2 separate regions of the Homo sapiens genome follow, and region 2 is linked to region 1. The links come from fine-mapping of genetic effects on gene expression. A gene starts in region 1. The other region holds a variant in brackets. All regions are shown on one strand. Distances are between the middles of the regions. Region 1 holds the start of GSTK1 (glutathione S-transferase kappa 1). Region 2 has its middle 6.2 kb from the start of TAS2R40.

Evidence for each region. PIP is the estimated chance that this variant, and not a neighbour inherited with it, causes the effect.
Region 2: its variant is fine-mapped to the expression of GSTK1 in whole blood (INTERVAL, PIP above 0.99).

The regions. Positions count from the first base shown.
Region 1 is chr7:143,258,633-143,266,966 of GRCh38, reverse strand. GSTK1 (glutathione S-transferase kappa 1) reads right to left here and starts at 3,526. Exons shown (of 8, transcript NM_015917.3): 1 at 3,382-3,526; 2 at 2,800-2,881; 3 at 2,291-2,419; 4 at 1,875-1,975; 5 at 1,671-1,706. The coding sequence starts at 3,453. The region is part of intron 2 of TMEM139-AS1 (TMEM139 antisense RNA 1); the gene reads left to right. LOC105375546 (a long non-coding RNA gene) reads right to left here. Exons shown (of 3, transcript XR_007060569.1): 3 at 3,760-3,819. RefSeq lists enhancers at 3,279-3,498, 3,317-3,611 and a silencer at 3,639-3,708.
Region 2 is chr7:143,224,087-143,232,420 of GRCh38, reverse strand. No RefSeq gene overlaps it. Among named protein-coding and RNA genes, the nearest start is that of TAS2R40, 6.2 kb to the right of the region's middle. The variant C/G (reference allele first, on the strand shown) is at 3,349.

The DNA.
Region 1 (8,334 bases):
GAACTAGATCCAAGCACTGTGGCTCATGCCTGTAATTCTAGCACTTTGGGAGACTGAGGCAGGAGATTGCTTCAGCCCAGGAGTTCGAGACCAGCCTGGGCAGCAAAGTGAAACCCCCATCTCTACAAAAAATTTTTAAAAAATTAGGCATGGTGGCACATGCTTGAAGTCCCAGCTACTCGTAAGGCTGAGATGCGAGATCACTTGAGCCCAAGAGGTTGAGTCTGCAGTGAGCCATGATCATGCCACTGCACCCCAGCCTGGGTGACAAAGCAAGACACTGTCTCAAAAAAAAAAAAAAAAAAAAAAAAAAGAAAGAAAGAAAAAAAAGAACAAGAACAATTACATCACAATTCCAGGGGAAAGGGTTAGCGCCAAGGTGCTCCAGGTGATTTTAATTCACAGCCAAGATTGACAACCACTGCAACTTGACTTCCTAGATCAGAAGTGGGACCCAGGAATTCATGTAGCCTGTCCTAATGAGACACTATCTTTGACTTGGTTAAATTAGAGAATTATGTCCTACACAAAATGTTTAACCACAGAAAAATGGTTAAGCAAAACAAAAATAAGTCCACTCAGTGGAACCTCTATAGAAACAAAGAACTATACTTTCAGAGTTAAGAATTCCATGGAGGCTGGGCACAGTGGCTCATTCCTGTAAACACAGCACTTTGGGAGGTGGAGGCAGACAGATCTCTTGAGCACAGGAGTTTGAGACCAGCCTGGGCAACACAGTGAAACCCCTTCTCTACAAAAAATAAAAAAGTTAGCCAGACATGGTAGTGTGTGCCTGTAGTCCCAGCTACTCAGGAGACTGAGGTGGGAAGATTGCTTGAGTCCAGGAGGCAAAGGGTACAGTGGGTCGAGGTCACACCACTGCACTCCAGCCTGGGCGACAGAGCCAGACCGTGTCTCAAAAAAAAAAAAAAAAAAAAAAAAAGCATGGAAAATGATTAAATATGAAGTAAAAAAGCAAGCTAAAAATTACACATGTACTTTGCAGGAGTATAGACTGTAGAAGATATATTTGCCATTCCTTATACGTTTAACTTTTGTGTGATTTGCCACTTTATATATTAAATTTGAATAGGTCTCAACTATTTTTTTTTGTAAACCAGAGGAATAATACTGTTTTGAATTTCCTAATTTAATCCTGAAGACAAACTTACTTTTATACCCCCATCCATGGCTCACTGGTCAATGTTTTGAGCTATTTCCATTTGTTCTCACTCAGGCTCCTATATAACCCTGGCATTAGTTATCTCTTTTCGTCTTTTTAAAGCCTCTTGGAACAAGTCTCCTGCCTTCCACTCTGGATGTGTTGGTGAGGTTTGTGTTGGAGTTTGTGGAGACTTGTGAATACTATATCCCTCCCCATCCAGGGGTTCCAACACTGAGCATCTTTCTCTCACTGACATCTTTCAGCAAATAAATTCTTCCCATATATTGTCCCTTTTGCACTTCCCCTTTCAACCTTGAGATATCCTTTTGAGGATCCTTAGTTCCAACTTTTCAGTAGTTTGTGCCCTGAATCACAGACATCCTTTCTTCCCCAGTAATTATAACCTTTTCCATGCAATAAGAGACCTATTGTCTTCTTTACCCCCAAACGCCAACTGTTCTCAGATTCTCTATGAGTGCAGTTGGGGTGGAGCCAGGACACTCACCGCCAGGATGCTCTGCGGCTCGGTGATGTCTTCATTCTGGGAAGAAGAGAAGACAGCAGGAAGGCGGTGCGGGGAGAGGGGTGTGACTGGGAGGACAGTAGATCCCCCGGGCGGGGGCAGGATCATGACCCTGAAAACGTGCCTGGGGAAGGTCAGAAAGTCATCCAAGGTCCTCCCAGAGGATTCCCAGAGCCCCACACTCACCCTTGACCAGACGCGCATCCACAGCTCCCGGGACGCTTTCTCCAGCATCTCTGGATGCTCCAAGTTCACGGCGGTGAGGAAACGCATGGCAGACAAACTTCCTGTGGGGCAGAGGCACCCAGAGGCAGGGCTCCTCTTGCTGCTTTCCTGGTGGAGGACTAGCTCTTCCTTGCTTCTGACATCCCCCAGAGCTCCTCCGCCCTCAGCCTCTCACCCAAGGTTCCCATGACCTATTTGCCTGCTCTTCTTCCCTTTCATGCCCGGCAACCTTCAGCTCGCTCAAGGCTGATCCTGAGGTTTCCCAAGGCAGGCTTCACTTGCTTTAGTCTCCCGCAGCCCCTCCATCCTATCAATCCCTCAATCTCCGACTTCTGTGTTTTTCACTGGATACCCTGTCTACATCCCACTCTCTTCACCTTTTTCAAGCATCACAGACAAGAAATCCTTGGGGAAGTGGATGGGAATCTGGAGATGGTGTCTCAGGAGCTTTAAGTCATTTGCCATGTATAGTCCTTTGCGGGGAAGCAGACCTGGAGGCTTGTTTCCTGCCAGGAGAAGGTTGGGCACGCTAAGTGAGAAAAGACCTAAGGGTCCCAGGTTTGGGGACCTCGACGTGGGTTTTGGGCAGAGGGCAGCTTCCTTTTTTTTCTCTTGTTGTTTCGCTCTTGTTGCCCAGGCTGGAGTGCAATGGTGCGATCTCAGCTCACCGCAACCTCCGCCTCCTGGGTTCAAGCGATTCTCCCGCCTCAGCCTCCCGAGTAGCTGTGGTATACAGGCATGCACTACCACGCCCGGCTAATTTTGTATTTTTAGTAGAGACGGGGCAGAGGGCAGCTTTCTGGCTGCCAGTGCCAATATAAGGACCCGCTGGGGTCGGCTCTCTTGGGCCACTGAGATCACCCCTGCCCCGACCCTCCCTTCCTACCACTGTCTTTCATGATCCCTGTTATGAGGCTGGGCCGCAACTGCAGGTTGATGTTCCAGATATTCTGATACCGGCACAGGATCTGCGGGCAGAGGTCAAGAACGATTGCCAGTGTGCAAGATGGAAAAGTGAAAGAGCCGAGGGAAAGGGAAGGGAGGCGCTAAGTGCAGAGCAGGGGTTATGCGGACACCCTACATTGTTTGGTTTGAAATTGGCAAAACTCTCCTCACTACTAGAAATCTATTCCAGGATCTTCGCTCCTGTGGCCAGTTTTCCCCAAAACTGCCATCGTTGGGCTAAGAGGTGGCCGTGTTCTGCATTTCTCCCTGAATGTTTGGAGCCGCCCCTCTTTCCACCACCGTGGGAAACTGCAGTCGGGATATAAAGGCTCGGGTTGGAGCCAGCGACTCTATTCCGTTTAAAAGCACAAAGTGACCTTCAGCCCCGGAGCTCTCCCTGCTTGCCTTAACCCCTTGGGCGGCGCCAGGAGTTACACGAGACCTCTGTCCCGGAGCCCTGCGCTCACTCTTCCCTCCGCCCTCACTCCCCAGACACTGCCGAGGCGACCCCTCCCAGCGTCACCTCGAAGCCCAGCCAGGAGTAGGGGGACAGCACGTCATAGAAGAGCTCCACGGTGCGCGGCAGGGGCCCCATGCTGCAGGCTCCGGAAGAGCAGTGGCAGCAGGAGCTCCTTTTCCCGGAACCCGGCAGAGGCTGCCCAGCTTCTGGGCCTGCCTGGGACCGCCCACCGCCTTAGCGCGCAGCCTCAGAGAGAAACTGCCCTGGTAGAGGTCCACCTCCGGCGCAGCGGGGCAGGGCCAGCCTACGGCCCCCAGCCAGGGGCGGGGTGGGTAGGGACCCCTTGGGGAGCGCGCAGGTGTGGACAAGGGGCGCTGCAATCGCCTTTGCAAAAATTTTAACAGTGAGAAAATTACGAAGGTGAAACAGATCTGAACTCACCAACTCCATCGTGCCTTTAACCTCCAAACTGCCCTTGGTCATTCCTGAGCATGGGACGAGCTAATATAGGGAGAAATTTAGTTTATAGTTTAAATGATAATAGCCCTTCCCCAAACTAAACCAGTTTTATAAAACTAATAAAAGTCCACAAGTTTAGGATTATGAGAGGGGCCTGAATTCTGCTAAGATGTAGGCATTAACAATTACCAGACATTGTTCCAGAGGTCACAAGCTCTGCAACTTCCCCAATTATTCCTGTAAATAACCACTTTTGTAGAACCTAAGACTGGCCTTTGAAGATACCTTCTCAGACTTTTCCATTTCTAATGACAGGATGACTCCACCTGGACCAGTGACTCCTCTGTGGCCCGCATCCAAATGCAACTCGGTGCACTGAGGACGGTTTTCCACACCCCTGTGATTGCATCCCCAACCAATTAGCAGCACCCATTCTCTAGCCCCTTGCCCATCAAACTATCATTAAAAAACTCTAGCCGGCGGGCATGGTGGCTCACGCCTGTAATCCCAGCACTTTGGGAGGCTGAGGTGGGTGGATCACTTGAGGTCAGGAGTTCAAGACCACTCTGGCCCACATGGTGAAACCCTGTCTCTACTAAAAATGCAAAAATTAGCCGGGCATGGTGGCATGTGCCTGTAATCCCAGTTACTCGGGGGGCTGAGTCAGGAGAATTGCTTGAATCCGGGAGGCAGAGGTTGCAGTGAGCCGAGATCATGCCACTGCACTCCAGCCTGGGTGACATAGCAAGACTCCCTCTCAAAAGAAAAACAAAAACAAAAACAAAAAAACCCACAAAGTCCCCTAGCCTCTGCCTCCGAATTTTGGGAGGCTAATTTGAGTAATAATAAAACTCTGGTCTCCTGTTTAGCTGGCTCTATGTGTATTAAACTCTTTCTCTATTGCAATTCCCTTGTCTTGATAAATTAGCCCCATCTGGGTAATGGGCAAGATGAACCCATTGGGCTGGTGTCAGGGTGACTGTCCTGCTCTGCAGTGGAGTCTTGTGGGAAGGGGGTAGTTTGAGATGCCTGCAGTGCCTTTCACTTAGCTGTGCCCCTTGGGTGAGCCACTTGACCTCTCTGAACCTATTTCCTCATCCTGCATACACATGGGGAATATCTAATGATAACACCTGCCTTATGACGAGTTGTGAGGAATGAGGTACTCCAATAACTGCTAGCTCTTATTATTGTTGCTTGGCAGTTGCATGAATCTCCTAAACTGGGGCAGAATAAGAAGTTCTCAGAGTACACATTTTCTTGTGTTACCTTTGTCAGAGATTTGCACAATGTCTGGGACACATTTGACCATCGATACATATATTTTGAGTGAGTGAAAAAAAAGAGGGACTGGTAGAAGATGGAGAGGCCTCACTATAGATAATTTTGGTGATAATGGAAACGATTGGCCCTATTCGTTTTCACAAATATGTGAGTCATATTGTCTTATATTGGGATTACATTTACTGCAAAGAAACAGAATTTTAAAATAATTCCATTTAACTTTGTTAAAATTATTTTTAACATTACTAATTTAATAAATTGGAAAACATATAAAGATTCCACTTTTCATTTGTATCAATAAGGAAAACAACTCCAGGCTATCAGAATACAGAGATACGAGGTAAACCCCTACATGGAGAAGAGCATGCAAAATGGAATGAAAAATGATGTTATCATTACCTACTTGCAGAGTAAACTAATTGTTCAACAACCACTGAAACTAAACTTTTTTTTTTTTTGAGATGGAGTCTTGTTCTGTTGCCCAGGCTGGAGTGCAGTAGCACAATTGCAGCTCACTGCAACCTCTGCCTCCTGGGTTCAAGCAATTCTCTCTGCCTCAGCCTCCCAAGTAGCTGGGATTACAGGTGCCCACCACCACGCCCAGCTAATTTTTTGTGTGTTTTTGGTAGAGATGGGCTTTCACTATGTTGGCCAGCCTGGTCTTGAACTCCTGACCTCAGGTGATCCACCCATTTTGGCCTTCCAAAGTGCTGGGATTACAAATGTGAGCCACCACAGCCCACCTTGTTTTTTTTGAGACATGATCTCACTCTCGCTCAGACTGAAGTGCAGTGGTTCAATTTTGGCTCACTGCAACCTCTGCCCCCCAAGCTCAAGCAATTCTCCCACCTTGGCCTCCTGAGTAGCAGGGACTACAGGTGTATGTCACCACACCCAGCTAATTTTTGTTTTTTGTCGAGGTGGGGTTTCACCATGCTTCCCAGTCTGGTCTTGAATTCCTGGGCTCAAGTGATCCTCCCACCTCGGCCTCCCAAACTGCTGGGATTACAGGCATGAGCCACCATGCCCAGCTACATTTTTGTTTTTCTCCAGTAATCATAATTTTAAAGTGTCCAAGAGCTAATTCAGCGTGGTAATTTAAGGTTTCATTTCAAAGGTAGATCAATCACTTATTTTAAAAAGCTTTTTATATTTGGAAATGTTTTAGATTTATAGAAGACTTGTAAAGATAGTACAAGGTTTCTGAATACCCCTCATCCAGCTTTACCTAATGTGAAAATCTTACATAAGTATGATAATGATAAAAACCAATACATTAACATTGGTACATTACTTTTTTTTTTTTTTTTGAGCTGGAGTCTCACTCTGTTACCCAGGCCGGAGTGCAGTGGCGCAATCTTGGCTCACTGCGACCTCCGGCTCCCAGGTTCAAGCGATTCTTCTGCCTCAGTCTCCCAAGTAGCTGGGACTACAGGCGTGTGCCACCACGCTCAGCTAATTTTTTGTATTTTTTAGTAGAGACGGGGTTTCACCATATTGGACAGGCTGGTTTCCAACTCCTGATCTCGTGATCCCCCTGCCTCAGCCTCCCAAAGTGCTGGCATGAGCCACTGTGCCCAGCCTGGTACGTTACTATTAACTGAACTGCAGGTTTTGCTCAGATTTCACCAGTTTTTTCATTAGTGTTCTTTTTCTGTTCCAGGATCCAGTCCAGCATACATACAGAATTTTGTTGTCATGTCTCTTTATTCTTCCCATATCTATGAGAGTTTCTTGGCCTTTTCTAGTGTTTCATGACTTTGACACTTGTGAAGAGTATTGATCAGCTATTTTGTGGCATGTCCCTTCATTTGGGTTTGTCTGATATTTCCTCAGAGTAAGACTAAGGTTGTGGACTTTTGGGAAGATTACCACAGAGGTAAGGTGCCCTTCTTGAATCATGTCATGAGGTACAGGGATATCAACATGACTCATCACTGGTGGTGTTTACCTTGGTCACCTGGTTAAGGCGGAGCAACTGGAAAATTTCTGCACTGTAAAGTCACCATTTTTCCCTATCCAAACCCTAGTTTTTGGAAGGGAGTCAGTAAGTGCAGCCCATCCTGGGAGTGAGGGTTGAGTAGATTAAGTCCATCCACTGGAGGGAAGAATATTAAAGAAGTTGTGGATATACGTTAACACTACCATGGTAACTAATAAATATTTGGGGGAGATACTTTGAGGCTATGCAAATATCCAGTTGCTCCCTAAACTGTCACCCATCAGTTTTATTATTCATCAGTGGATCTTGCCTGCAGCAGTTGTTACTGTGGTGTTCTAATGGTGATTCTCTATTTCCTTAGTTTTTTTCATTTATTAATTGGAATTCTTTTGACAGGAGAGTTGTCCCTTCTTTCTATTTATTTATTTATTCAGTCAGTTATTTATATCAGTATGGACTCATGTATATTTACTTTAAGAATCACAGAATAATAAAACATTGATCTGAGTCCTTACAGTCTATCTCCACATACTATTACTGTTGTTATTATTATTATTTTTAGGTTGGGCCCTGTTGTGGATAAAATGGAGTAGAGACAACAAAAAGAAAAATATATTCACTTCTATGGGCTATCATCTTCCTATTGCTGAGAGGGGTATTTAGTGTTAAAAGAAAAACCTCAGACAATTTAAATTTAATGGAGTTTATTTGAGTAAAGAATGATTCTTGAATCAGGCAGTACTCAGAACCAGAAGAGGTTCCGAGAGCTCTGCAACTGTAAGCAATGAGTATTTATAAGCAGAACAGGAAGGTAAAGTACATAAATAGTTTGATTTGTTGCAGCTAAGTGTTTTGCTTGATTTAGACATGAGCCAGTCCGTTGGCTGCTTGCACTTAGCTGAAGCTTGGCTGCTTGTGATTGGCAAAGACCTGGTTATCTGTTATAAAAATGAAACTCCTAAGTTAAGTTTCAGTTTGTTTACATACTAAGTTAGGTTGCATTTTGTTTCATAGGAATTCAAAGCATGGAGACTGTCTCAGGTCAATAGCCTCCTGCTTACTTAATTTTACTCTAGATACTGATTAGAGCTATTGAAACAAGAAATAGTGGTATAAGTAAGTTATTTGAAGTGGGAAAAGCACTAAGTAGAGGAACAAAACATGATATAATTATCAAACATTGGAGGAGGCAGAGGAGAGGTGGTGTATGCGATCCAAATTCTCATCTTTCGTAGATGAGCCAATGGTATTATCTACATTTGAAAGCTCAGTAAATAGCGCTTTAATCATGTCATTTGGAATTAAATAATTGATACTGGAAATGCTTTAAG
Region 2 (8,334 bases), 35 kb after region 1:
AGATATGGAATCAACCTAAATGTTCATCGACAGGTAAGTGGATAAACAAAATTTGGTATATATACACAATGGAATACTATGAATCCACAAAAAAGAATGAAATCCTGTCATTTGGAGCAATACGAATGAGCTTGGAGATCATTATGTTAAGTGAAATAAGTCAGGAATGAAAAGAAATACTGCATATTTTCACTCATATGTAGGAGCTAAAAATGTTGAGTTAATAAAAGTAGAGTAGAATTGTGTTTATTAGAGGCTAGGAAGGGTTAGGGGAGAGGATTAGGAGAGGTTGGCTAACAGATGAATCACAGCTAGATAGGAATAAGTTCTAGTGCTTTATAGCATTGGGTGAATATAGTTAACAGTAACTGCATATTTTCGAAAGCTAGAAGAGAGCCTTTTAATGTTTCCAACATAAAGAAATGATACACTTTTGAGTTGATGGATATGCTAATTACCCTAATTTGATAATTACACATTGTATACATGTATAGAAATACCACTCTTAGATATGTTCTATTATTACATGTCAATTAAAAATAGAAGGGAAAAAAGTTGAATTAGAGGAAACACATACCAGAAGAATGATGTATATTTTGGTATATTTCAGATAGTGTGGATTTCAAAGATGAATCTTGAAACCCAATTAATTTTAATAGGTACTAAAAATTTAACTGGAATGAAAAGAACCCACAAAATCTTTTAGGCTAAAGGTACTAGAAATATTTGAATTATATAATAAACCTCATCAAAAGCCTTCAACAGTGTGTACTGGCACTATGTTAATGGTTGAGTAGTGGTTACATAGGGGATGTACCATTACCTGCTTTTGTATATGTTTTAAATTTTCCAAAATTAAAATTGTAAGTAGAACCTAACCATCAGGCCCTTTCAGTGATTGTACGTAGTGAAGTGAATAGAATGAAGCATCAAGAGCTGCCAGAAAAGGTAGTCCTGAGATGCAGTGTGAAGGGCTTTGCAGGCCAGTCAGAAGGTTTTTGCATAATGAGAAGCCTTTGGAGGATTTTAAGCAGGTGGGGTGTGTGTGTGAATGTGTGTGGTGGTGTGTGTGTGTGTGTGAATGTGTGTGGTGTGTGTGTGAGTGTGTTGGTGTGTGTGAATGTGTGGTGTGTGAATGTGTGGTGTGTGAATGTGTGTGGTGTGTGTGAATGTGAGTGTGTGTTGGTGTGTGTGTGTGAATGTGAATGTGTGTGGTGGTGTGTGTGTGAATATGTGTTGTGTTTGTCAATGTGTGGTGTGTGTGAATGTGTGTGGTGGTGTGCGTGTGAGATGGTGTGTGGTGGTGTTTGTGTGAATGTGAGTGTGGGGTGGTGTGTGTGAATGTGAGTGTGGTGTGTATGAATGTGTGTGTTGGTGTGTGTGAATGTGAGTGTATGTTGGTGTGTGTGTGAATGTGTGTGGTGGTGTGTGTGAATGTGTGTTGGTGCGTGTGTATGGTGTGTGTGAATGTGAGTGTGTTGGTGTGTGTATGTGAATGTGTGTTGGTGTGTGTGTGAATGTGAGTGTGTGTTGGTGTGTGTATGTGAATGTGTGTGTTGGTGTGTGTGAATGTGAGTGTGTGTTGGTGTGTGTGAATGAATGTGTGTGTTGGTGGGTGTGAATGTGTGTGTTGTGTGTGAATGTGAGTGTGGTGTGTGTGAATGTGTGTGTTGGTGTGTGTGAATGTGAGTGTGTGATGTGTGTGAATGTGTGTGTTGGTGTGTGTGTGAATGTGAGTGTGTTGGTGTGTGTGAATGTGTGTGTTGGTGTGTGTGAATGTGAGTGTGTGGGGTGTGTGTGTGAATGTATGTGGTGTGTGAGAATGTATGTGGTGTGTGTGAATGGGAGTATATGTGAGTGTGTGCATGAGGTGTGTGTGAAAGAGTATAAGAGTGTGTGTGTGTGTATGTGCGGTTCAAGTGAATGTGTATAGGTTTCTTGTTCACAAAGTTATGGAATTGGTGTGAATATCATAGCTGAGTTGAAAGGTAATACTTGTTACCTGAATTTAGCCTCAGTCATTTGGGTGGAGCTTAGGGTGACCAACTGTCCCAGGTTATCCAGGACAGAGAGGTTTTCTGGGTTGTGGAACTTTCAGTTTATAAAATCTGAGTGGTTGGTCACCTTAGTGGTGGCAATAGATAAAGGGTACAAATTGTGAGTAGTTGTATGTTTGAAGGGTACTTGGTGGATAAGGAAATAGAAGAAAACTCAGGCAGCTGAATAGATATGGAAGTCAAGGGTGAAGATCTTTAAAACAGAGAGAGTGGCCAACAGTGCCCCACCCTTAAGGGGATCAGAGGCAATGGAGACTCAGGCCACAGGTTTGACTTTTTAAAATATTATTAACTTATTCAGATCAGGACTTACTAGGCATGTTTTTTAGTTATTTAGCCTTCAAAAAAAAATTCTGCCATTGGGTACAATTAATGCCATCAGTGCCAAAAACGTAAATTAGAATATAGACACAAAACTTAGTGAAATAACTCATGAAAGATAAAATATTAGGCAAAGGTGTTTGAATCACTTAACAATTTGATTAGATAACAAAGAGGTTAAGACCATTTCTTGTAGTATTTGGAGATATTTAATTTTTATTATGTTAAGATAAATCTCACATAAATCTTAACAAATCTTAGTTAACTCTTATGAGTAGAGTGTGAGTGTCAGGTGCTATTCCACTGAGCAGTGAGATGAGGGAAGAACGGGCCTATGGGGTCTTGGTGTTTTCCGCAGGTCACATTGCCACTCCCTCCCTGCCAAGCATTTCCATCACTCATGGTCTCAGCTGCACTCAGGGCCGCCAGCCATAATCTACTCTCCAGCTACTGGTTTGAATAAACCACTGATTTATTTGCAGTCCCGAGAGCTGTAGGCAGGAAATGCAAACAGCAGCTTTCCCTCGGGAGGGCTAGATGTAATGGGACCCTTCTCTGTTTTCCATCCTCAGGCTCTGATGGGAATCTCTGAGGAAGCTCAGTGGAAAATTTCTTTTTCTCTCAGCCCTGATTTCTCCTAAATGGCTCAGTAAGACCGAGAGAAAAGGATTTTGTCCTGAGTTATCTGCTCCCCACGGTGAAGGAACTAGGGAAAGAAGATCAGGATTAAAAAATTGTTTTTAGAGGATAGGCGTTTTAATTGTGCACATTTGAGGTTTAGGGTACATTCCTGACTCCACAGTACATAGATGACTACTCAGGAATTTTTCACATTATAATTTAATCCAGTATTCTTTTCTAGCCTGTGTACTCTTGGAGGGTAAAATTTTTGTTGAGTTGATCTTTATTTACTAAAAATGCATTAAGAAATACATTTTTGTTGAATGAATGAATGCACTTATCTTCATAT[C/G]GTGGTTTACAATTTATTATAGACATATTTTATTTGAGTCTCATAGCAACCATGTGTAGCGGATGTTATGATTATTTCTGCTTTCCAGATGGGGAGACTGAGGCTCAGAAAGGTTTAGTGACTTTCCCAAGATCACACAGAATGGAGACTGAAGTCTAGATCTTTGACACCGAATGTAGATTCTTTCTATACACCACATTTCCCATCATTATTCAATAAACCAGCCTGTTGCTTAGTCATCTAAAAGAACACAAAAATACAAACATTGCCCTGCTGGATCAAATTCACAAGGAGAAAGCACTCAGAAAGCCTAGTGTTCAACCTCAACAGAGATGGTTTGTAGAGGCATGACTATTTCAAACTCATTGTTATCAAGTGAGTAGCTTCAGGGCAATAGCTTTCAAAGCCTTAAGGAGAAACAAAATTTGGGCTCCGTGTCTATCCTTAGCAGGTGGGAGACAGGGGACTAGAACATTAGCTTTCTGTTTATTTTTTTATTTTATTTTTTTACAAAGAGCTAGTGGACTCTATTTTAAAGATTGCACAGGGACAGAGAAAAGCTGGAGAAATTGAAAGTGGCAAAAATATTGGGGAAGTTGCCACGTTCAAAACATGGCAAAAATTCATAAAAAAGGATGAGTTCATGTCCTTTGCAGGGACATGGATGAAGCTGGAAACCATCATTCTCAGCAAACTAACACAGGAACGGAAAACCAAACACCGCATGTTCTCACTCATAAGTGGAAGTTGAACAGTGAGAACACATGGACACAGGGAGGAGAACATCACACACTGGGGCCTGTTGCGGGGTGGGGGGCTGGTGGAGGGATAGCATAAGGAGAAATACCTAATGTAGACGATGTGTTGATGGGTGCAGCAAACCACCATGGCACATGTATACCCATGTAACAAACCTGCACATTCTGCACATGTATTCCAGAACTTAAGGTATAATAAAAAAAAAAAAAGAAAGAAAAAATAACATGGCAAAAGTTGCCACAATAAGTATCCCTGGTTTTGCAATGAAGTGTGACTGGGTCCTGGGGAATGCTGTGCCTTCAGGGGTAGGAGAACATGCCTGAGTGAAGGGTCTGCAACTGCAGCCTGGGGGCAAATCTGACCCACTGATTCTTTTTGTTTTGTATGGCCCACGAGATCAACTAAGCAAAAATTTCACCCTCCAAGAGTGCACAGCTGGGAAAGAATGGACATGGCTGTGCTCCAACAAAATGTCACATCATGAAATATTAATTTTTTAACCATTTAAAAATGCAAGAGGCATTTATTAAAAATGCATTTTTAATGGTTGAAAACATTAAAAGAAGAATAATATTTCATGACACGTGAAAATTATATGATATTCAAATGTCAGTGTCCATAAACAAAATTTTGCTGGAGCACACCCATGTCCATTTATTTATTTTTTGAATCACCATGGTGGCTTTTGTGCTGCAACAGAAGAGTTGAATTCTTCTGGAAGGGACTGCATGTGGCCCACAAATCCTAAAATATTTACTCTCTGGTCCTTTACAGAAAAAGTTTGCTGACCCCTAACCTAGTGCCTGTTAGGTTCAAATCTACACTCAGATAACTGTCGGGCAGCTAAACTGTGGAATACTAGATGTCTTTCATTTCTGACATTGTCAGGAAGTGAACAGGAATCCAATTCTTAAGGCCACCCTACACTTTTCACCTGCCACTTGGATGACTGAACTACTGGATCCATGGCCATGTTCTGCCACCAAGCCTGTGGGACTATAAAGGCTAAGCCTTCTGTGTGCATCTGGCCCAGTCTGGTCTGTCCTTTTCATATCTGGCCTGCTTTAAATATCCTCATTCTAGATGCCTCTCAGTGTCACTCCACTTCCCTTTGGAATACTAACAGCTAACATCTATTGATGGCTTACTCTGGGTCAGATGCTGTGTGCTAAACACTTTACCCCATTCTTCTCTTAGGATGAGATAACCCTAGGAGGCTGGTATTTCCCATTATTGTTCCCATTTTACAGATGTGGACACTGAGGTTCAGAGAGATGCAATAACATGCCCATTTGCACACCAGTAAGTGGCAGAGCCAGGACCCAAACCCAGTCTCACGACTCTGGGAACTGCACGGGCGGGGGTGTGGAAGTTGAGGGGATGCAGGTTTTTCTGTTAATGCTCCACCCTGCCTTGGATCCCCTCCTGCTACTGCTGCCATACTAAACCTAGGGGGTGGCTGGTACTTTTCTTTCTTGGGCTATCTTCAAAACCACTTTTCTCTTATTTTCTTCTTGATGCAACTGAAAGAGGGTAGAACATTCATAAGACACTTTGCTAAAAAAAATAAGAAAAACCAAATGAGAGACAAACCAGGAAAATTTTTTACAAATCTGTATTCTTCCTACTGACGTTGTTTGATGGGCTAGCGCCACAGACACAGAGCACCTTTGCAATACCACACTGGGAGGGAAGAGTCCAACCCAGAAATGCTCCTCTTCAAAGCTCTTGGAAAACTTTGTTTTGCTGCTTACAGGGTAATCCCCACAGGCCTAGGCAGAATTGTCAGTTAAGAGCTTCTCCCAACTGAGAGTGGCCAAGATTAACTCAGCACTCAACACCTCCACATCTTCCCCTTTAGGTTCCCACTGCCCCAGCCCTTCACACCACCCATTTTCTGCTGTCTGCTCCCATTTTCCGCCCAGGCCTGCCCTTCCTGGGCCATGTCACAGGCTCCAAAATGCTTCCATCTTCCTCCTGTCAACAGAAACTTGTAGCAGTGTAACATGTTACCTCTTCCCAGCATACACTTGATTTGAGCATTTCCCTGAAAGTTTTGCCTCTCCTATTTTAGGCAACGCTTCCCCCATTTAGAAAAGGGTACAGAGAGTTCCCCCAGCCTTCAAACATTACAGACTGGCTTTTTAGCCGTTCTGTCCTCCTCTTTCTCCCCCAAACAAATCTTTCTGAGTACATAAGAAATTTCCTCCTCTTACCTCTCTTCTAAAGATTTTTCTTGGCTGGGTGCGGTGGCTTATGCCTGTAATCCCAGCACTTTGGGAGGCTGAGGCGGGCAGATCACAAGGTCAGGAGATCAAGACCATCTTGGCCAACATGGTGAAACCCCATCTCTACTAAAAATAAAAAAATTAGCTGGGTGTGGTGGCACATGCCTGTAATCCCAGCTACTCAGGAGGCTGAGGCAGGAGAATCGCTTAAACCAGGGAGTCGGAGGTTGCAGTGAGCCAAGATGGCACCACTGCACTCCAGCCTGGGCGACAGAGCGAGACTCCGTCTCAAAAAAAAAAAAAAAAGAAAACTATATATATATTCCTTGTCTCCAGAGGAGAGGGAGAAAACGTAAGACAGATGGGAAGGCTTCCTCTCTCGGTGTCTTTTTTTTCTTTCCTTCCATGATCTTTCCTAATGCACAAGTTGCCCTGTCTCCAACAAGACATAATTAGTTAGCCCTTGGTTTCTGCTCCCCTCCCCCAGCACAAGACATTTTAGACTGGTTGGACTTATAGTTTCTTTTCTTTTTATTACATAGATGTTTCTTCCCTGCTGCCCCAAGTAAAGAATGCCTGAGAGAATAACAGATTTCCTGTAGAATAAAAGCAAAGAAAAGCCAGAACCACAGTGGAATTTTAGCAGACACCGAAGTAGTTGGAAGGGGAAGATGATACTGGATTGTGGGACAATCTGGTGCCCATAAAGTCATAGCCCTTAGACTGGCCATGGCTGCCAGTCTAGCCTTTATTTGCAAGGACTCGACCAGGTATGAGGAAAGAAGCCAGATACCCTGCCTCTGGGCTGGGCCTGCCAGACTGGAATCCATTGCTAACCAAAGTCCCCTTACCTGCTCCACATGCTAGATGAATATTCAGAGTGACTTTGTGGGTAAAGGAATCCTTCACTCTATCACTTTCAACATCCCGCAGGGCTGTGGGGCGAGGGAGATGATGTAGAGTTTGCAAGGTGAAAACCTGTAATAATATTGAGACCACAGCAAGCCGGGCTTTGCATTTGGTTACAGACTTTTGTCCAGCAGAGTCGATTATTGTCTTCATTTAGGACTTCTGATTGCTGTCTAAAGCCAGACAACTTGAAGACTAGGTATTCTGGGTCTTTCTGAGTGCTTACTTGGGTTTTACATACAGAAGAAAGAGAATTGGAGAGAATTTTATCTCGTTGAAGGCAGGCCAACATGTGCATCGATAAGGATGTTATCATCCTTGGAGCTTTTGTTAGCTATGTGCTGCCTTAGGCTCTTGCTAGCAATGAGATGATATTTCTTCATAGTAAGTATGGAGTTATCCACTTTGTGGTCTTGACATGGTTCATGTTAATATAATGGCAACTTTAAATCAATTTTCTCTCTAACTCTGTAATGCATCAGAGAACCCTTAGTGGGTACATGACCCTTTTATCAATATATATAACTTGGAAGAAAATGTATATTTCTCTATTCTAGGGACTGGAATAAAACTTCAATATCTAATTTGTCTTACTATAACAAATACCGCCTGAAATAGTCATATAAATAACTATAGCTTAAGAAAACTATCAAAAATGTGTGTTTTATTAATATTTTACTTTTCAGGTAAATAAGTCCCAAGCTGTCTGAGCTATAAAGGAATCTGTGTGTGTGTGTGTGTGTGTGTGTGTGTGTATGCCATGTGTCTGTGTGTATGCCGTGTGTGTGTGTGGTTTTTGCAGTTTATGGATGTAAGGAACTCTCTCTGAAATGTGTGCTTGAGAGCGCTGGAGCTCAGAACTAGACTTTGCTACTGACCTCATATTTTCATTTGGGGGCTACCTAAGCTTGGTATGATCCACAGCATTCTTTTTTCATTTTCCTCAATAATCATGATTTAAAACTTACCTAATAAAAGACAACTTCAGATTCCTAACGTTCAAGCTCTAAGATATCTGGGGAGAGGGTGTCCAATGTTTTGTGAACAGCTCTTTGAGACAATGCTGCTGGAACCATCCTGAACAATGACA